3 separate regions of the Homo sapiens genome follow, and regions 2 and 3 are each reported to be linked to region 1. Evidence: microRNA targets listed by miRTarBase, many of them from high-throughput screens and not tested one by one. Region 1 holds a microRNA gene; each other region holds the end of a gene's coding sequence.
The links. The annotated mature microRNA hsa-miR-6508-5p reads UCUAGAAAUGCAUGACCCACC and lies in region 1 at 5,024-5,044, shown strand. An mRNA with a match to its seed (bases 2 to 7 or 8) in the 3' UTR can be bound and repressed. Matches are read on the target gene's strand: a 7mer-m8 pairs with bases 2 to 8, a 7mer-A1 pairs with bases 2 to 7 and ends in A, and an 8mer does both.

Region 1 (7,193 bases):
AATGTTTCTATTTTTGTGGGCCTTATGTCAGTAATGAACTAATCATAATAGTGACTGTCCAGAGTGTCTTCAAGGAAGGAGATACAACTCTGTGAAGATAAAGAAACCTGATCCTGACAGCGATCAGGGAAGTTATCCCTGTAGAAGTACTGTCTGAGTTGAGATAGGAAGGGTCAGTGGGAACTAATTAGGCAAGAGAGGATGAGAGGGAGGAGGGAAAAACAATGCAGACAGAGAGGAAAGAATGCCAAGGCCTGGTGGGTGGAGGAGGCCCATGTGGCTGAAGCCCAGTGAGAAGGGCCAGCGGTTTCAGATGAGTCTTGAGACGCAGGCGGGGGTGAACAGCTGCAGGGCCTTCGGAAGGCGTGTTTATGATGTGGATCATTAATCCAAGGGCAATGGGAAGCTAACTGTAGGCAAAAGAGGGAGGCGGGAGGGGTGGCATAATCAGCTCTGCCTTCTGAAGGTTACTCTGGCTGCAGGGTGAAGAATCGAGAAAAGCCAGAGGGAATGTGGGGAGACAAGCTGGTACAGGACTGCGGCAGGCTGAATGAAGGTGGTGGTTTGCACTTGGGTGTCCACGACAATGAAGAGATGTGAAAGATGCCCAGGAGACAACCTCACCTGGGCTTAAGGATTCACTGGGTGTTGGGGTGTGATAAGGGTCAAGGAGGAATCCTAGGTACAACGGAAGAGGTTCCAGCTGGGGTTGGGAAGTGGGGTTGTTTGGTTTTGTGCATGTTGAATTGGAGGAGACTGAGTGGTATTAAGAAACACTGTCACGCAGCTAGCTGAACGTACGAGTCTAGCTGAGAAAGGGTCAAGTTGGAGAAAGGTAGGAGTCAAGAGCACAGGGCTGGAACTTAAAAGCTGTGCGTGTGAATCTGTGCCTTGTGCTAGATGAAGGGGCGCAATGGAGAATAAAATGGGAACAGATGCCGAGCTTTGAGAATCTCCAATATTAAGGAGCCTGGGAGAGGAGGGTGAGCCAGAATGGCAGCAGGAAAAGCAGAAGAGTCAGGGATGGTCACAGAAGCCAAGGGAAGACAGTGTTTGTAGAGTGAAATGGGGGCAGCAGTTTCAGATGCCGCTGAGAGATTGAGCAAGACAAAGCCTGAAAAAGTCTCATTCCTGGTTTTTGTTTTAGCAGAGATGAAGAGGGAAGCCATACTGGCTGAGGAGTGAGAGACAAATAATAGAGGCATTGAATATGGCAGTTCTTTAAAGTTTGCCTGTCGAAAGGGATAAGGGATTGGACAATAACTGGAAACTGAAGGGGAACGTGGGGTCAAAGAAGATTCTTTTTTTCTCTTTTGTGATGGGAGACTTGAACATGCTTCAAAACCATGGCAAAGAGCCAGCTGAGATGGAACAGGTGATCATACAGGAGAGGGAATGTATACCTGACAGGGTAGAGTTTTTGGCGAGTGGAAAGCGATGGGATCCAAAGCACGGAGAGGGAGTGGCCTTGGTTAGGAGGAGGAAGGAAGGTAGGAACAGATATAAGTAAGGCTTGCAGTTTTGGGAGCTGAAGAATGAGGGGATTCCCATGTGACAGCTTCAAGCTTCTCTATGAAGTGACAGCACAAGGGCGTGGTGGGAGATCAAATCTGAGGAAAATGGTCATTTATGAAATGCAATCTCCTACAGACCCTCAGCTAACCGTGGCAATCCTACTCTGTTACTTTGGTTAATTGGGGTTTTACCTGATGGCAAAAGAGAAAAGATGGGGCTAGGAGTTTAAGAGAGTGGCAAGGGTAGGGCCGGGCGCAGTGGCTCACGCCTTTAATCCCAGCACTTTGGAAGGCCGAGGCAGGCAGATTACCTGAGGTCAGGAGTTTGAGACCAGCCTGGCCAACATGGTGAAACCCCATCTCTACTAAAAATACAAAAATTAGCTGGGCATGGTGGCGTACACCTGTAATCCCAGCTACTCAGGCCGAGGCAGGAGAATTGCTTGAGCCCAGAGATGGAGGTTGCAGTGAGCCGAGATCTTGCCACTGCACTCCAGCCTGGCCGACAGAGTAAGGCTCTGTCTTAAAAAAAAAAAAAACAACAAAAAAAGAGAGATTGGCTAGGGGCCTTAGCTCCTTGAGGGCAGGGACCTGTCACATTGATCGCGGTATCAGCACCCAGGTACTTACTATTCAAAATGATCAGCATACGGATGATCATTTGTCTGCATCTCAGTTTGCCTCTTTTGGTGCTTCTCTAAAAAATAAAAAAGGAAGAGCTTAAACTCCTACATGATTCCTGTCTTTGCGCTGGGAAGAAGGCTCTGGGTTCTTTTGTTCTTCAGGACAGTCCCTTGTAAAGCTCTTGCCATAGTTCTGTTCCAGGGGCACTGTCATATTTATACCTAACAAAGCTAAGGGGTGTCTTTACATTTTTAGCTTGTTAGCAGGATGCTTATATGGCCTTGCTGACCCGGTTTAAAAGTTGCAATTTGCAAAATACATACTGAAAATACTGCACTTTTACCTATGGAAGTTGTAATTTATATAAGGAAATTGTAATTTATATAATCCTTTAAAAAACTTACTCATACGAAATAACAGAGAACGGGGAAATACCATTAAGACTGTCATGCTCAAGTGGGGGAGGGGCAGACTCAGGGAAACCAATTAGGAAGCAAGTAAAATAATCCACGCACCAGATGATGGGGGCCTGGACCAAGGTGGTGACAGTGGCGGTTGAGAGAAATGGTAGAATTGTGAATCTATTCTGGGTGCATTTTGAAGGCAGTGCTGACAGACTGAAGGTGAGGAAGAGAAAAACAGGACTCAAACAGGATGCAAGACTCGGGCAACTGGAGGATGGAATTTCCAGCAACTATGATGGATTAAGATTGTGGGAGGACAGGCTTGGCTTGGGGAATTATTGAGCGCTATCTTGGACGAGCTGTGTTTGAGATGCCGTAGACATCCAAGTAGGGATGTGGCAGGCAGCTAAATGCAGGGATCTGGTGTTCAGGGGAGGGGCGAGGGCTGGGAATGCACACTTGGGGCTCACTGGAATTCAGATAGGCTCTGAGTACAGGCGACTGGATGAGTTCATCTAGGGATTGAGTGTAGACAGAAAAAAGGCTCAAGCTCACATTCAGCCGTGAAAACTGGTCTCTGAAAAAAGTTAACCGTTGGCTTAAGTGTGGCAACGAAACGTTAACACGCTGAGGGGAGGGTGTGGATAAAGAGCCCCGAGGCTGGGTGAGTGGGGGACAAACACAGACAGAGAAGACATTTCAAAAGATTTAGATTCCTACGAGATAGGGAGATGCCAGCGCTAAGGTTAGAAAGAAAAACTAATCCAAAGCAAAACAGCAAGTAAGCAGAGGCAAAATCGGAGGTCAGATAGAAGATTCAGATAGAAAAACCCCAAAGTTCCCTCGGTGGGGCGGCGGTGAGATCGGCCTCCGCCCCCTCGCCAGACCCAGGCGCGGCCCCGGGAGCGCTAGGTCACCTCGGCCCAGGCCGTCCCCCTGCCCAGCGGGCCTGAGAGTACGTGTGTCGCCGGGGCGCCCGGTCACTGCCGAGCCGGGGTAGCTGTTCCTTGGCAAACTGTGCCGCGAGGAGGAAACGGCGGGGCGCCAGCGAGGCAGGCAGGGGCGAGGACTGAGTGACCGGCGATACTGGAAGCCCAGAAAGAGCGTAGCAGGAGGGTCCGGAAGGGCCCAGAGCTGGGGCTGTAACAGGGTAACCGGCTGAGGGGGACGACGGCAGCAGCGGGGCCGTTACCTGCTCCGCGCTGTTCCCACGACTGCGCCAACGCCGCAGCGCCGGCGCGTCCCCATGGAAACCCGCGCGCGGGGCCTCCTGGGAAGCGCCGGCCTGCGGGGGCTGGGCGCGCGCATGCGCACTCGGGCAGCAGGAGCCGCGGCGGGGAGGGGCGTCTTGGGCCTGGAGGTCAGTGTGGCCTCGCGTTTGTCTTCGGTGACGGGAAGTGAGTTTCTTGTGTAGACGTCTGTAAACGATCCTCCTGCCGTCCCTGTTCGGCGCCCGGGACCCTGCCTTCCCGCGTGGCCGCACCGAGACGAGGGAGCCTGTCACGCGCTCTGGCGCTCTCCTGACCTCTTAAGGCTCTGTCAGTCTTAGGTAACTTGAGTCAGTAGGTGGGTGTAGACGCCTGGTCAATTCCTGGGAAGCACAGTTCCCCTATTAACCCCTTGTCATAAAGACGATTTTTTTTTTTTTTTTGTAAAACAAAATCTGATGACAAAACAATGCATGTTTGGCATAGAGAATTTAGAAATGTACAGGCAAGTCCAAAGCAAAAGTCAAAATCACCTAGATGATGGAGTTATAGATGTTTTTTAATGACAGCATAGGAATTTGGCATAATTTAGGAAGACTTACATTGTTTCCTTTTATTTATTTACTTTTTTTCCTGCATCAAAGCCATGTTGAATATCCTTGCAGATGAATCTTTGAGGTCACCCCTGACTGTTTCCTTAGGATAAATTCCTACAAGCGAGGTTGCAGGGCCAAAGCATATGCTCACTTTGAGGCTTTCTAAAGGTAGAGGGAAACTGCCTTCCAGTAAGTGTCCCGATACTTGGCCCGCATTGGAAATTCTCTTTTTTCTTAAAATTTTTTTGCCCATTTTATTGTCAAAAATTGGCATCTTTAATTGTATTCACTTCCTTTTTAGTAGGAAGAATAGACTTTTTCCCATATCTTGAGTGCCATTTGTCCTTATTGTGTGATTTGCATTTTCCTGTCTTTTGTCCATTTTAAAACTTGACATTCATCTTTGTAAAAATGGGTTTTGTAAGGACTTTTGATGCTTGAAAACTTGGCTTGTGATATACGTTGCAAATATTTCCTCAATTTGTCAGTTACCTTTAATTTTGTTTACAGTGTATTTTGGTATTTGTGTAGAGTCAAGCTTATTACATTTCTCTATAGTTTCTGCATTTGGTTTTTATATAAAAGGAGAAACGGGTGTTTTTTTTCAAATTGACTTTAATCCTACTTTGGTAGAAGTGGGTTAGGACAAGCTTTCTCTCCATATCACCATTTCTTCCTCTAGAAATGCATGACCCACCCTGAGTTTTGGTGGGCCATGCATTTCTAGAACTCCTTAGGTAGGGAATTATCCGTATAAGATGGGTGCCGGTTGTTTTTGCTGGTGGTGGTGGGCGGGGCAACATCTCCAGGTAGGCAAACATTAGACAAATGTCACTCTAGACTTGACATTATGGAAAGATGGGCTGATGCTTGGTGGGTGGTGGTGGCCCCATGACAGTAACGAGAGCGGAGTTTTGCCATTGCGGGAGCATCCAACCCTGGAGCTCATGACTGGAGGAATTGAAAGGTAGAGTTTCCTGAGAATGGTTTCCTCCTCTTTTCTACCAGCTTTTCCCAGTCTGTAGACATGATAAGTCACTGCAAATCTGCCCTTGAATCTTTCTTTGCTTTCGCTTTTGCTTTTTTTTTTTTTTTTTTTTGAGACGTATCACTCTATCGCTCAGGCTGGAATGCAGTGGCGCCATCCCAGCTCACCACAACCTCCGCTTCCTGGGTTCAGGTGATTCTCCTGCATCAGCCTCCTGAGTAGCTGGGATTACAGGTGTGAGTCACAACACCCGGCTAATTCTTTTTGTATTTTTAGTAGAGATGGGGTTTTGCGATGTTGGCTAGGCTGGCCTTGAACTCCTGACCTCAAGTGATCTGCCCGCCTCGGCCTCCCAAAATGTTGGGATTTCAGGCATAAGCCACCGTGCCTGGCCTTTGCTTTTGCTTTCGAAGGGGTGTTCTTTTCTGTGTACACAATGGAAGGAGAAGAGCCATGGCCTTTCACTATTCTGGGGCCATCTCCATCATGCCACATAAAAAGCATAGCCTTTATTTCTCTATATTAGGTTCCTAGGTTCCTAGGGATGTCATAACAGACTACCACGAACTTAGGGGCTTAGAACAATAGAACTTTATCTTCTCACATTTCTGGAGGTCAGAAGTATGAAACCAAGTTGTCTGAAAGTCCATGTTTCCTCTGAAGGCTCTTAGGGAGAATTTTTTGAGTCTTCCAGCTTATGGGGACTCCTGCTATTCCTTGGCTTGTGGCAGCACCACTCCAATTTCTGCTTCCATCTTCACAGGGTGTTCTTCTCTGTGTCTCCCTGTCTTGTCTTCTTATAAGGACAACCAGTCATTGGACTTAGGGCCCACCCTAAATCCAGGATGATTTAATCACAAGACCCCCTCAACTGATTACATCTGTAAAGACTCTATTTCCAAATAAGGTTACATGCTGAGGTTTGGCTGAACATGAATTTTGGTGAACAATATTCAACCCACTACAGTTATTATGGTAATCATTTCCATCATTCTACATAATAAAGACGTGTCTTTATTTGTCATTTTAAGTTATCTGTAAAGTTATGTAAATCAAAACATATCATCTGGTATCATTTATCATGAGATCATCTGGGGGTCTCTATGAAGTTTGTAGCCCAGTACCTCATGTCTTTAAATCAAAATTAATCAAATCAAAAAGTGATGTTATTTGACTTGTTAAAATATACTCCAACAGACGGACAAAATGAACTCCTGTTTCCTAAAATGAGATGCACCAAAAACAGAATGTCCTACTCGGGAGGCTGAGGCAGGAGATGAATGTGGGAGGTGGAGGTTGCAATGAGCTGAGATCAAGCCACTGCACTCCAGCCTGGTGACAGAAACAAACAAAAAACAAACAACAAAACAAAACAAAACCTCCAGAATGTCACAGCCAGAAGGATGAGGGGTTAGTTACGTATTTTTGCATTATTAACTGCTATTAAGTAAGCAGAAACCAGCTTCGAAAAAGCATAGCCAACACAACTTCAGCTGGAAAATTTCCAACTGACCCCGATAGACTGCCTGATGCCAGCCAATGGAAACATTCCCTCCCTCAGTATGCGCCCCCACCCCCAAACGCCTTGCAGACCTACTACAACTCCAGTTGGACAAAGGACTGGTCTTATAAACATTCTTTATTGATAAACAGCTGCAGACCTCCAGCCAATTTTGGCCAGCTTATAGAAATTGCACATAAAATGTCTTTGTGCCCTATAGTTCACCTGTTGATATAAAGAGCCAAATTCCATCCCATTTTAATGCTAGAACTCCACCCCAAGGTGAACATGGAATGTATGATACATATATGTTTACCCACTGCACACATGCCTGAATTTCCTCATAAATATTAGTAGA
Region 2 (7,193 bases), not on the chromosome of region 1:
TTTCCAGCCATTGCTCCTCCTTGGCACACCTGCCCTGGACAGCCAACCCCAGAATCACCCCATTCAGAACAGGACTTCTCTAAGGAAGCCAGAAGGGAAACAGCTGAGGCTGGGGGCAGTGGGGGCAGAGGGAAGGGGCTGGTGCAAGTCCAGGTGATGGTAGACTTTGGAGCACCTGGGTTTTAGAATTGGCATAGCAGCCAATTGCTAGATGTAAGTAGCATTGCCTCCCTTTTTAAACAGGTCATAAAGATGTCTATGTTTAATTGTGTGTGTGTGTGTGTGTGTGTGTGTGTGTGTGTTTTGAGCCAGAACAAGAGTGAGTTTTCAGTATTTCCTTCCTAGAATTGAGGCATCCTTTGGAACAGGAATGCAAGGTGGCTTGGTAAGGGAGAAGATATCTCTGTTAGTTCTCTGTTGCCTACAGAAAAAATCCAAACTCCTTAGCTTGGCATGCAGGGTCTTCCTGGTCTGGCTCCAGCTCACCTTTCCAGCTCCATTCTTTTTCCTCTCGTCCTTAGGTGAGATAGGTCCTTTCAGTGACTTCAGGCCTTTGTCCATGCTGTTTTCTCTGCTTGGAATACCTATCCCTGTTCTCCTGCCTTGATATGTTCTTGCTGATACTTCATTCCTTTTTGTGTTTTCTGCTAGGAAGAGAATGACCCAACTTTGATTCCCAATTCAGGCAAGCATACGTTTTGAGTAATATTCTTACTCCTGACTTTTTATTTTTTAACCATAATTTTTAATTTACTCGGATTTCCTTTATTTGGTTTTTGTGTTGTTCCAGTATATGTATTTGAGAAGCCTTTTCATGTGCTTTTCAGTACATAACTGGTGATATATAAAGTAAATACACTGATGGCTTACAACTTAGTTCACATGTCACTCCTTCATTAATGGCTCTGTCCTCCTCTGGCTCTTTACTGATGTTTCTAAACAAGCATTTAACGCAGTGTGGTTTTTCAGTTTCCGTGTCTGTCTTCTTCCAGCTGAACTATGTGCTCTTCAGGGCGGGCACCGTGTTGCATTCATCTTTGTACCCCCAGCATCTAGCAGTGTTGGCATGTAGTAGGCACTCAAGAAATGTGTGTTGAATGAACGATGCCTGTGACAAGCAAGCGGACTTTATTCTTTCCTGACCCTTGCTCCTATGACACACCTCCTCCTGACTGCCACTGTCACTCCTTCAGAGCAGAACTCCTCTAGGGAACCTGGATGGGAAACAGGTGAGGCTCAGAGAGGTGGTGGCAGAGGGAACGGGGATCCTTTGGAACACCTGGGTTTTTGGCATTGGTGTCCAAGGGCAGGAGTGGGGCTGGCTTGGCAGCAGGCATTTCCTTGGGTGGCTGGGAAGTGATGAGGAATTGGGCCTGTTTCTTTACAGCCATGGCCAAGGACATCCTGGGTGAAGCAGGGCTACACTTTGATGAACTGAACAAGCTGAGGGTGTTGGACCCAGAGGTTACCCAGCAGACCATAGAGCTGAAGGAAGAGTGCAAAGACTTTGTGGACAGTGAGTATTGGGGAGATACAGTGCCACTCAGCTTTGAGCTGCCATTTCAACTGTACCCCAGGCTCATCTTGGCCCTGCCACAGTGGAGCTGCTGGCTCCCTGGAGGTTGAATCTGGCGTCTGTGAGTTCCCACGTGCCACCCTTTTCTGTCTGCCCTCTTGTGCTCTCATGTGTCCCCAACAGGGCACCAGTCAAACCAAACACCGGGATGGGGAGGGGAGGGTGTCTTTAGATATGCCATCTTTCATTTCTTGCTCTTAGAAACCTTAAACTTTCTGGGAACACAACCATGGCTTGGGTGTGGGAAATAGAATTATGTACTCATGATTTGATTTCTTCAGAGAAAGTCTTCTCAGGGGCAGGTTCTCTGTTATTTGGAGTTAGAAGTGATAGGTGAAGTTTCTAGAAGCAGCTCAACAGACTTACTGAAGTCATCTTTTGGCTGGAAATCTTCAGGAAGCCTCCTGTCCCAGCAGCCAAGCAAGCCCAATGCCCGTACAGAGCCAGATCTAGCTAGAACAAGGGACTTCTGAGCTTTCTGGGGGGTTTCCTAGGTTGTGGAGAGAGCTTGGTTAGTGAAAGGTAGCTTGGGTTCTGTCACTAACCTGTGATTGCTGTGCCATGCACACACCTCTCTGGGCCTTAGTTTCCCCTCAGTAAATTGTCACATCCAGGACATTGGAGAAAGTGAGTGGGAGATTAGGCACTTAATGCTGTGAGCTTGCTTTTTTGTGGTTACAAGTGGGAAGCCCCCATCCCCACTGTTAATTGAAATCTGGTGTCATACCTGTAGCTAGTCCAGAGGCAGCGCTTGTGTCCTGAGGCTGCCCTTTTGTGAACAACAGTGCTTCCTGTCACTCCTGGGGAAGCAGGGTTGGGGTCTGTCTGGAGAATGAGCCCAGCAAGGGCCTAGTGCTTTCATAGCCGGAGGTCATAGCGGCTGGCTGGCTCAGTGGGGATGCAAGGTCCGAGTATGCCCTGGTCCAGCTGGCCACCCTTCTCTAGGTTCAGACCAAGGGTAGGAGACAGGCCAACAGGCACCAAAGTGTTTAAGCGACAGGGTCTTGCTATGTTCCCCAGGCTGGAATGCAGTGGCAGTTCACAGGCATGATCACACATCCTCTAACTCCTGGGTTCAAGTGATCCTCCCACCTCAGCCCCCTGAGTAGCTGGGACTACAGTTGCTCTCCACCACGCCTGGCCCACACCGAACTATTTTAACACAAATTAGAAGGGGCAGTCCGCTCTGCCCTCTCACTGCCTTAGCACTCTACCGAAGGGGAGTGATGATACTAAGGAAATATTTTATTTTTTGTTCTTTTCCTAAAAGAAATTGGCCAGTTTCAGAAAATAGTTGGTGGTTTAATTGAGCTTGTTGATCAACTTGCAAAAGAAGCAGAAAATGAAAAGATGAAGGTAAGATCAGCATGTCTTCCGCCTACATCTTGGCCTGGGACCCTAGTTCACTACCCTCTCATCCCTCTTCCCTCTTGATTTATTTAGAGGGGTAGAGGGCTGGGTGGGTGAATTTTTATTTAAGATTTTAATAACTTCTGGTCCACTTAACCTACTGAACTTTTGCCAATCTTTATTTCCTTTAATCTTTATTTTTTTTTTTTTTTTGAGACAGAGTCTTGCTGTGTCACCCAGGCTGGAGTGCACTGGTGCAATCTCGGCTCACTGCAAGCTCTGCCTCTCAGATTCAAGCGATTCTCCCACCTCACCCTCCCGAGTAGGTGGGACTACAGGTGTGTGCCACCACACCCAGCTGAGGTTTTTGTATTTTTTTTTTTTTTTTTGAGACGGAGTTTTCTCTCGTTGCCCAGGCTGGAGTGCAATGGTGCGATCTTGGCTCACTGCAACCTCCGCCTCCTGGGTTCAAGCGATTCTCCTGCCTCAGCCTCCCGAGTAGCTGGGATTACAGGCATGTGCCACCATGCCTGGCTAATTTTGTATTTTTAGTAGAGACAGGGTTTCTCCATGTTGGTCAGGCTGGTCTCAAACTCCCAACCTTAGGTGATCCGCCCGCCTCAGCCTCCCAAAGTGCTGGGATTAAGGCGTGAGTGACTGCGCCCGGCCATTTTTTTGTATTTTTAGTAAAGATGGGGTTTCACCATGTTGGCCAGGCTGGTTGCAAACTCCTGGCCTCAAGTGAACTGCCTACCTTGGCCTCCCAAAGTGCTGGGATTGCAGGTGTGAGCCACCACACCTGGCCTCGTTTCATCTTCATATCAGCACTGATGTAGATGGTCTTATCCTCATTTTATAAATGAAGAAATGAAGGCTTACATAGTATGATTGGTGAAAGGCACAAGGCTGAATGGCACCACCAAATGTGCTATTGTGCCTGTGTCCCTGGCTCTAGGAATACTCCTAGACCTGCCTCAAAGCTGCCGTCTAGTTCTTGAGGCACTTTGTGATCAGTAGGTTAATCCTTCTGACTTAACCCAAAAGCTTTGGGGCTCCACTTTCTTTTCCTCTCTGAAGACTGACACAGCTCCCAGATAACCCCTCCCCACTTTGAGGACTTGATGCTGTAGATGGTTTTAATGAAGCCATGGCCTTCTCTGGCAATACTGTAGGCCATCGGTGCTCGGAACTTGCTCAAATCTATAGCAAAGCAGAGAGAAGCTCAACAGCAGCAACTTCAAGCCCTAATAGCAGAAAAGAAAATGCAGCTAGAAAGGTAAGAAGTCATGATGTAAAGCAAGTTCTTTACACAGCTGAATTTCCACTCTTCCTTCTGGAATGATCACTTCTTGTCCTTATTCTTCATCATTGTTTTCCCAGGAATAGCATCTCACTTGTCATCCTGATTTGAAGATTTTAAAAAATAAAATTACATTTGATGGGAAGGAAATAGAAAACTTGTTAATATCAAACCACCTCTAGTAGTTTGAGCATGAAAGGGTCCACGAAGTTGGCTGGCTCTCTGAAAGAAGACTTTCCTAGGGCTGGAGATTTCTCATGGGTGGCTCTGGGTAGGGCTTTGCCTCTTTCTTTCTTCATTCTGAACTCACACCATTTCTTGAAATCATTTAAACCTCTATATCCTTCTCTAGAAGAATTAGGTCTGTGGTTTACTTCATCTTTTTTTCAGGGCCTCTAACAATTTTGTTTTTCAGGTATCGGGTTGAATATGAAGCTTTGTGTAAAGTAGAAGCAGAACAAAATGAATTTATTGACCAATTTATTTTTCAGAAATGAACTGAAAATTTCGCTTTTATAGTAGGAAGGCAAAACAAAAAAAAGCCTCTCAAAACCAAAAAAACCTCTGTAGCATTCCAGCGGCTTGACCAATGACCTATGTCACAAGAGGTGGCGTGTAAGGAATGCAGCCCCCTGAAGACAGCACTACAAGTCTGGGGGAGCCAGTTTTAACATCAGTGCACAGCTGCTGCTGGTGGCCCTGCAGTGTACGTTCTCACCTCTTATGCTTAGTTGGAACTAAGCAGTTTGTAAACTTTCATCCTTTTTTTTGTAAATTCACAAAGCTTTGGAAGGAGAAGCAATAAATTTTTGTTTTCAAATGGCTTGATGTACCTTTTTTCCTGTTGCTCTTGAAATATGTTTAACTCCTCATGAGAGAACCCTGGATTCTCTATCCCCTAGTCCACAAAACAAACCAGGCAGTGGTCAGCAGCTACCTTTATTTGGATCACACACGTGAGTCAGACAGTACCACTAATCGGGCCAATATGGCTTGTGAGCAAAATGGGTGAAAATAGAGGGAACTGACTGGGACCTGTTGTCTAACATCATTTTAAGGTTGAACTTGAGCAAAGACTTAGAGAAAGCTGATGGAATGCCAAGCATCAACGTGAAGAGACCCTCTATGCACACAGTGGATATGTTATGCCTGGCTGTAGCCACCTTCTCTTCTGAAAACAAGATGGGAATGACGGAACTGTATTAAAAGATTAAGTTATCCACTAGGGAGCATACTAGCACACTTCCAGATCAGCCTTGAGATGCTAGACTTCAGATACAGGGACTTGTGTCAGGTGGCCTCTAGAAATGTGGAAGACTAAGATTTAGAAATAAACTAATTTAAAAGCAAACAAACAAAAAAAACTTTCGCCTAGGATGATCTGTTTACAACAGAAACAAAAACATTTTCCAGTTTAATCCATTTGACTGAAAGTCATTGTTGGGCTGACCCTTAAGGAAAACTTAAGTTTAAACTTCCTTTGCATAGTATGTTTTCTCTTTTTTCCTTGGGTTAGAGGTGGGAACAAGAAAACATTGATATAGTTTTGAATTAACATTAAAGAGGCAAAATTTCACATTTAAAATGGCCCAAAATATCCCACTATTCATTTTGCTGACAGGTGATACACTCTTGAGAATCAGGAGTGGAGGGTTTAGTCATAAGCATATATGCTGTGGGTCAGGTGACTCATGAACATGTCAAACAGGCCATGTTCTTTAGCAGTTTCTGGTCTGGTCCTGCTTTTAGTAATCTTGCGGTGGAACTCAGGCACACAGTTATTTGGTACCACTTCCTTATAACCTAGCCCACACCCCTTTGCCCACCCTCAAGCCGATCGGTCTGTTCATCCCAGTGCCCTTAGAAGGTGAAGGTTTGGGCTGGGCCCAGTGGTTCACGTCTGTAATCCCAGCACTTAGGGAGACTGAGGTGGGCAGATCACTTGAGCCTAGGCGTTCGAGACCAACCTGGGCAACATGGCAAAACCCTGTCTCCACACACACAAAAAAAACAAAACAAATTAGCCATACGTGTTGGTACACACCTGTAGTTCTAGCTACTTGGGAGGCTAAGGAAGATGGCTTGAGCCCAGGAGGCGGAGGTTGCAGTGAGCCGAGATCATGCCACTGCCCTTTACTCCAGCCTGGGCAACAGAGTGAGACTGTCTTAAAAAAAAAAAAAAAATGGAAGAAGGTGAGGGTTTGACATGGTTCCTGACACCATCTTGCTCTTGTGCATTGCTGCCAGTGTTTCAAATGCTGCTGAAGACGTGGGTTCTGAGCAGTGTTCCTTGTATTGTATCCAACAAGCAACCACCCTGTAGGCATCTCTACCCTGGGCCAGTGGTTGTTTCCTTCATTTTTTTTTTCTTTTCTCTTCATACTTGTAGTAGGGGCTCCGCAACATGAAAATTAAAAGTATGAATGGGATGAGTAAGTAGGGGGCATAGACAGACACAAGGGTTAACCGTTCATGCAAAGTCTCAGGTCTTTGTCCCTTGAAACCACTGGCTTTGGAGAAATCCTCAAACAGAAATGTGGAGAGTATCGGAATTAAGGTTGTCATGGTGTGAACAGAGTAGATGATTGCAGGAGTTCGAATCCACTTGCAGCTTCCTGAGGTAGTCAGGGGAAAAGAAAAATGGTTAGGTCTGTTCATGACTCAAAGGTGTCCATGACCTTCCCACTGTCTCTGCCTGCCTGCTTTCTTCTACTCCCTTCTCCAAGTGGAAACTCGGAACTGGAAACCTGGATGTGCCACACTGCCCAACATGCAGACTTACGTGACAGCTCACCGACAGCTCGCCAAAGAACCAAGAATGGGGGTCAGAACATAACTCGGAAAAGCTCTAGGGCAATAAAACTGCCATTACCGGTTAAACCTGTGTGGTACAAAATCCAAGGGGAGGGAAATCCCTGCCCCATGGCATCTGTTTGTTCAGTAATTATATATAGGTGAGAGGATCAG
Region 3 (7,193 bases), not on the chromosome of region 1:
GAGCAGGCTTTGGCATTAAACAAACTTAGGTTTGCACACATAACCCCGGGCTTTTTTTCTTTTTTAAATTCTTAGATCCTCAATCTACTGTGAAAGGTTAATGTGAGGACTAAAAATGGTACACTTAAAGTGCTCACCACAGCCTGGCATGTAGACAACCATGAGAAATGGTTACCACCATTATTATTGCCACTTAACATGGGGCAAGCCTTGCGAACAACTTTACTATATGATCGTTTGTCCCTAACCAGTCACCTTCCAGTTAATCTTCCCTGATACATCATAAACCTGGTTATGAGAGTGTGAGTTTTGAATTGTTTTATTATCTTTCAGATCTGTAAGAGCAAAGCTAAAGAATCTCAGCAGTATTATCACAGCTTGGCTGTCCGGCAGAGTCTGGCTGTCCATTTTAACATTCAGCAGGACTGTGGTCATTTCCTTGCTGAAGTCCCTAACCGTCTGCTTCCCTGGGAGGATCCAGATGACCCTGAAAAGGATGAGGATGACATGGAAGAGACTGAAGAAGACGCCAAAGGAGAAACGGATGGGAAAAACCCAAAGCCCTGTTCTGAAGCAGCATCATCCCAGAAAGAGAATCAGGGAGTCATGAGCAAGAAGCAGAGGAGCCACGTTGTGGTCATCACCAGGGAGGTTCCATGTCTTACTGTGGCTGATTTTGTGCGAGACTCTCTGGCCCAGCATGGGAAAAGCCCTGATTTGTATGAGAGGCAGGTGTGTCTGCTGCTCTTACAGCTATGCTCTGGTCTTGAGCACCTCAAACCCTACCATGTCACTCACTGCGATCTACGCCTAGAGAACCTGCTACTTGTCCACTACCAGCCTGGGGGGACTGCCCAAGGCTTTGGGCCTGCAGAGCCCAGCCCCACCTCATCTTATCCCACTAGGCTTATAGTGAGCAACTTCTCTCAGGCCAAGCAGAAGAGCCATCTGGTGGACCCCGAGATCCTCCGGGACCAGTCTCGCCTTGCCCCAGAGATCATAACAGCTACCCAGTATAAAAAGTGTGATGAGTTCCAGACAGGCATCCTCATCTATGAGATGCTGCACCTACCCAACCCCTTTGATGAGAACCCAGAGCTGAAGGAGAGGGAATACACACGAGCAGACCTGCCTCGCATCCCATTCCGCTCCCCCTACTCCCGGGGTCTGCAGCAGCTGGCCAGCTGCCTCCTGAATCCCAACCCTTCTGAGCGGATCCTCATTTCAGACGCCAAAGGCATCCTCCAGTGTCTGCTCTGGGGCCCCCGCGAAGATCTCTTCCAGACTTTCACCGCCTGCCCTAGCCTAGTACAGAGGAACACCCTGCTCCAAAACTGGCTAGACATCAAGCGAACACTGCTCATGATCAAGTTTGCTGAGAAGTCCCTGGACAGGGAAGGTGGAATCAGCCTTGAGGACTGGCTTTGTGCTCAGTATTTGGCTTTTGCCACTACAGACTCCCTCAGTTGTATTGTGAAAATTCTGCAGCACCGTTAATGTGTACCTGGATGATGCTTTTACTACATCTTCACCTTCTTCATGTCACCCATGCACTTCCCCTCCCTAGTGCTCACTCCAAATTCAAGGAAAGAAGAAAGGCAAACCTCTATCCCTGTCCGTGAACAAGTGGGTCTATTCAGAAAGGTTATCCACTGCCCCAGATTGAATGAGAAGCTGAGTCTGTCTTAACTTTACAGAAATTCAGCTGCACAAACTTGCAGTTGCCTTCCCTTGAAACACCTTCTATCCTAATAGTCCCATAAATGCAGGTAAAAATGAAAATCCATATTCTTGAAGGGACAGCTTCTTTGGTATGAACTCAGCCAGTGAGCTGTGTCCATTTCCTCCATAATTCTGGATATCACCTATCTTTTTAGCACCAAGTATTTATTCTCACTAGCAGTAGACAGACTTAACCAGTCTCTACCACGACCCAGTAGACTCTGACAACAGACTCTTCCTTTAAGGTGTCAACAACTGACTTACTAGGCAGGACTGCCATCCTTAGCATCAGCCCAGTTTTGGTTACCAGGGACTATATCTTTTGTTCCAGGAGAGAGTAGAAAGAAAAGGAGAGATCCCATCCTTGGGTCATAGACCCATTTTCATTGCCATTATCTGTAAGTATGTGCACTGCATGGAGGACAGCCCTAATAGTCTCCCCTCTGCTGCCACTGCCTGATTCTCCACTCTGTCCCCACTTGCCAGTGAAGTTTGGATTTATCAGCCACTTGTGGCCCATTACAGAGCTGACCCAAGGTGGTGTCACCAATGCCTCAGCAGGGTGGAGTGCAGTTCAGAGCTTATAAATAGCTGGCAGGGCATGAGGAGATGATTTTCTTGCATGTGCAATTCTCTAGGGGCCATCAGGAAACAGAGTTTAAAGTACCCTTTGATTACTGTCAGAACTGTCAGCATTTGCAGTTTTCCCCGAGCAGTAATTGGCCAGCTCCCTTCTATCAGTAGCCAGTGTTAACTAGTTTACCAAATGCTGTAAACAATTGCCCTGAATGAAATAGCTGTCAGTGGAGCTCTAAGATCTCCTTTAGAGGGCACAGTGAGGTGGGCTGTTGGGATGGCCGTAGGCAGGGGAGAGGAAGAAGGCCACTGATGAGACTGCTGACCTCCTCAGAAGGTTGACCTCTTCTAGAGAGACTGCCTCCCAGTGTTTAAGTGGCTCATTGCTCCTTCTGACTCTGTAAAATGGCTCTGGAGGACAGCTCACAGGAATTCTGATTGCTGAGGTGGGTGATTGAGAGCTGTTCACCATGTGTGCAGCCTGTGCTCCCCTTCTATGGATATGTGTGCAATTTTTGTATGTATTTTTTTAGCTGTATATTACAGTGTTTATGTTGCAACTTCACCTGAAGCGAGTCTACAGAAACCCTCCCCCTTCTTCCCTTGGCACATATTTGCGCTAAGAGATGAGCGTTCCTTCCACTGGGGTTGTGTGTGTGTGTGTGTGTGTGTGTGTGTGTGTGTGTGTGTGTGTATGTATACACATGTTCACCTGTGCTTGTTTTATTCAAAACTGTGAGTATGTGTTTACTTTGACCTTGAAATCCCAAGAGTCACTCGAACAATGTGTGTGTACACTTGTGTGCCCATGTGTGCGTGCACACGCATGCTGGAAGTAGAGGCCAGGCCTCTAGAAAAGCAACCTGTGGCAGGGTTGACAGACATGTTCTCTGTGCCTAGTGAGTGAGTGAGCCCTGAGGCCCCTCATCTACCAGTGCAGAGTTTCCTTAAAGCCAAGACTGACTGTGCAGTATTACTTACATAGCACATTAGTGGCCTTGGAAATTTCTAAACTTTTAACATTTTTAACAGCTTTTCATGTGATTCATGTATAACAAAGAGGATCAGGAAAGGAAAATAATGTATTTTATTGTGCTCTTATTACTTTTTTAAGTGATTGTAATATGTGAGGCTCTATTTGGAGAATGTCCCTTATCCCCTGGCCAGCAATATAGGACTCACAGGAAAGAAGGCTGGTTAGCCCACAAAGAGTCTTGCCTCCTCTAGCCAGAGTGCAGGGCTCTGCTCCTAGGAATGGCCATGGAGTGGGCATGCTGCTGCAGGCCAGCAGTCTGCTCTTGGTGTCCTGTGGCATGGCCGCGCCTTGCCTTGAAGGTTGGTGTTTGGTTCATCTTAGCATAGAACATGTGCACATAACTCCTTGCCTGATTATGCACTGAAGGGCAGCACACAGACCACTGACCATGTCAGCCAGCACATTCCCTTAACCTCCCCCACCTCCCATCTTGCAATGTCTTGCATATTGAGATATACCTTCTCAATGTCATGTTCGTGGTGCCTTGCCCATGTAAATTTCAATGTTGACTATTTAATGAGGTTACATATTTAATGCTGAATGTTTCCTGGTCCCTCTATTTGTTATGTCTCTACTTATCTTTTTTTTTCTTTCTCTTTTTCTGTTATGATTTGGATCCAGTCTTCACTTTAACTCTATGGTATAATAAGCATGGACACCTCCACTACCATTATCTTACAGCACTGGTAAACCAAGCACCTCTTCATATCAGATGTTTTTAGTACTGTTTTTATATTCAGATTTGTTAAGGGCAAAAGATGAATGCAAACTAGCCAGAGAAAAGCCTCAGGCTTCCCAGAGACAGGTGGCTAGATTAATTTTTCTCTGGGTGATGGCCAAAGAATGTGAGATAGAGAGGGAAGGGGGTGTTACAGGTTAGAGCAGAATAGAGAAAGAAACTATATTTCTAGGCAAAAAGTACTACATGAGTTGGTCTTCAGAATATTTTTCCAAAAAAATGAAATTCAGTCAGTTTAACATTATCACAAATATTTTTCATTTTAATTGTGGTAGGACCTTTGAATTTGTTCATCAACTGGAAAGAAATCCTACCCTCTGTAGACACATACACACACATTTATATATCTATGTGTTTGAATTGTGACTAGTATAGCACTTTACATTTTCTCAAGTAACAGGAAGTTATTGCCTTCAATATTGATTGGAAATTGTTTTCTATTGAAGTCTATACTGTAGAGTTTTCCATTTATATTGAGAGTTTGAACAATTAAGCTCCTATTGGAACTTTTCCTTAAGCCACATGAGCATGAACAATCTCTGTGACACTTGGGTGCTAGAGAAACACAACAGTGGCTAAAGTAGCCAAGAGCAAGACTGAATGTATAGCAGAGTGCCTTGTTAGAGTGGTAACCTAGTCTTGGAAGCAATTCAGTGGATGTTTCATAAAGAGGACTAGAACTTCAAGAAGCCTCCTGTGCTGGCTGAGGTGAGCCCTTTTGGTATATGTACACTACTGGGTTGCCTAGAAGCCAATTCATGAAGAATAACAGCAGGATGAGAAAAAGAGTCACTGTAACCTGTGGAACAACAACGTAAGAATCACCAACCCCTAGGCTGAGCTAGAACTGGAAGCCAGGAATATGGCAATGAGTTTCAAGATTTGCCCTCAGAAGATGAACTGGGTGAGGTATGGGTTGAGGTGAGGGCACAAGCACTCATCCTACCTACCCTGCTGCTGTTGAGGAGCTAGAAGTAAAACATATTGGTTAGGATTTTAACAGTTGGAGTAGCCTCCCATTATCAGATTAAGTGGGGGTCACTTTTGCTTCCAAACTCAGAATAAGTTTGTAAACATGGGAAAGTCTAAGCCAAGAGATCTAAAGCTCTAGAAATATTAATGACATTTCTGGGAGTAAAACTACTAAAAATTATATCTTAAAAGTTTCTAGTAGTATGAAGTTCCCAGGCCAGGCGCAGTGGCTCACGCCTGTAATCCCAACACTTTAGGAGGGCGAGGTGGGCAGATCACCTGAGGTCAGGAGTTTGAGACCAGCCTGGCCAACATGGTGAAACTCCATCTCTACTAAAAATACAAAAATTAGCCGGGCATGATGGCAGGCACCTGTAATCTAAGCTACTCGGGAGGCTGAGGCAAGAGAATCTCTTGAACCCAGGAGGCAAAGGTTGCAGTGAGCCAAGATCACGCCATCGCACTCCAGCCTGGGAGATTGAGCAACTTCGTCTCAAAAAAAAGTTTCCAGGAAAGATCTTTGGGTCCTACTAAGCGTCTCAATTTTGAGTTATGAATACTTTGGTTCAGGGAAGTAACCTGACATTTGGTTTTGCTGGAATTAGGGTTTTCGCTAGATTTGACTGCAATTAGGATTTCTTCTAGATTTTACCAGCAGTGATCTGAAAAAGTACAGGCTAGTCACAGAAATAGAGATGGATTTAGGATACTACACTATATTTCAAATGATTCTAGATGTGTAAATATAGTATGAACATTCTTGGAGAGGGGTGAGACAAACTGGACTTGCTGGGCCAACCCTGGCATGTTTTTCATTCTCCTCACTAGTTGACAAGGATTGAAAATTCCGCTCCAGCCTAATGAGTGAACAGGATGGCTGCCCACAAAACCAAGTTATTAGCTTTATGTCATCGAAGCTCATATTCTCAAAGGCCCAAAGTGCTGTGCCGAGACAAATCCAAGTGCTGCTCTTGCTGAAGTGCGCACTGAAGTCCAGCTGTCCGTGCTTACAGCAGTGCCAAAAGTGGGGATTCCATGGACCAAAAACGGTGCCATAAGGGAAGCCAGAAGAGTTGCAGTGCAAGATCCTGGGAGAGATTATACCAAAGAAATCAAGCCTTTTTATCCTGATGCTTCTAAGATGATGAGGGTGAGCTGTGACAGATGCTGTGGGAGGGGAGTTCACATACATTCCATGTCAAGGCATTTAGCTGATAAATCCATCCTCAGAAAAGCACCTTTTTAAAAAGAAGTCCATTTTGTATATTAGAAGATGATGATGATGATGAAGATGAAGAAAGCCCTGGCAGATACAAAGTTCCTCAGTATTTAAGGAGAAGGATCTCTTCCATGTCCCCTTGACATGACTGTGGCTATTGCCCAAACCTCAGCTTGAGAACATCATATAATACTGAGAGCGGAAGATTTTTTTAAAGAGATATGGTAGTTTAAATAGGTTTGTTTAAAGAACTCTTGGGAAATTTCTTAACAAATTGTAATTGTTTTTATAAACCTTCCTACAGAGTTGTGTACCATTCATCATCACCATCATTTAATATCTGTAAGTGCCCAGAAGGTACAAGGTGCTATACAGCCGTTAAACACCCCCTCCCTGCAACTGTTTAAAATTAGAATAGATTTTTGCATCAACCACTGCTAGAAGCTTTCCCCACCTAGGTGGGCTGCAAGGGCCTGCATTCCCAACATCCCATTACATGTTTCCCACTCCAGAAAGTCTCTGGGTTTATTCCAGCTTTTTATCTTGACGTGTCCCATTCACCCCCATGGTTTGGTTTGGTTTGGTTTTGTTTTTTAAATCAAGAAAGTTTCAGGGAATCAAAAGAGGTCGGACATTTTTTAACCTAGCAGAAGTACAGAGTCATATATTTTGCTACGAATATTGTTGTAGTACAGAAAACCCACTTTGCCCGTTAGTGTGTGGATAGTATGTGTGTGTCCGCACTCATGATAACTTGAATGTTGAACCAGACATAGGGTTCATTTTTGAAAGGTTAAACCACACTGTTTCAGGAACTTGCTCCAAATACTACTTGGTTATCCCTTCCTTTACCAGTTAGAACTAAAGAGTGTGATGTATGAACACACTGGGTTGGGATTTTCTGTTGAGGATATGCAGGGCATTTTGGC

Region 2: the mRNA of TMEM97 is a reported target of hsa-miR-6508-5p. Seed matches in the 3' UTR shown: 8mer at 5,527-5,534.
Region 3: miRTarBase lists PEAK1 as a target of hsa-miR-6508-5p. Seed matches in the 3' UTR shown: 7mer-A1 at 2,645-2,651, 7mer-m8 at 4,239-4,245, 7mer-m8 at 5,238-5,244, 7mer-A1 at 5,685-5,691 and 7mer-A1 at 5,775-5,781.

What each region holds. Positions count from the first base shown.
Region 1 is chr21:39,441,991-39,449,183 of GRCh38, forward strand. MIR6508 (microRNA 6508) reads left to right here and starts at 5,020; the gene lies at 5,020-5,079. The region is part of intron 8 of GET1-SH3BGR (GET1-SH3BGR readthrough); the gene reads left to right. LCA5L (lebercilin LCA5 like) reads right to left here and starts at 3,788. Exons shown (of 11, transcript NM_152505.4): 1 at 3,735-3,788; 2 at 2,145-2,211. It also overlaps a transcript of SH3BGR not described here. RefSeq lists a silencer at 3,699-3,958.
Region 2 is chr17:28,326,182-28,333,374 of GRCh38, reverse strand. TMEM97 (transmembrane protein 97) reads right to left here. Exons shown (of 3, transcript NM_014573.3): 3 at 4,690-6,841. The coding sequence ends at 6,582. IFT20 (intraflagellar transport 20) reads left to right here. Exons shown (of 5, transcript NM_001267776.2): 2 at 1,388-1,516; 3 at 2,847-2,932; 4 at 4,099-4,202; 5 at 4,642-5,049. The coding sequence starts at 1,390. The coding sequence ends at 4,723. Among named protein-coding and RNA genes, the nearest start is that of IFT20, 5.7 kb to the left of the region's middle. RefSeq lists an enhancer at 6,157-6,206.
Region 3 is chr15:77,108,460-77,115,652 of GRCh38, reverse strand. It overlaps PEAK1 (pseudopodium enriched atypical kinase 1), which reads left to right. Exons shown (of 10, transcript NM_001385026.1): 10 at 334-7,193. The coding sequence ends at 1,497. Among named protein-coding and RNA genes, the nearest start is that of TSPAN3, 41 kb to the right of the region's middle. RefSeq lists a silencer at 1,216-1,404.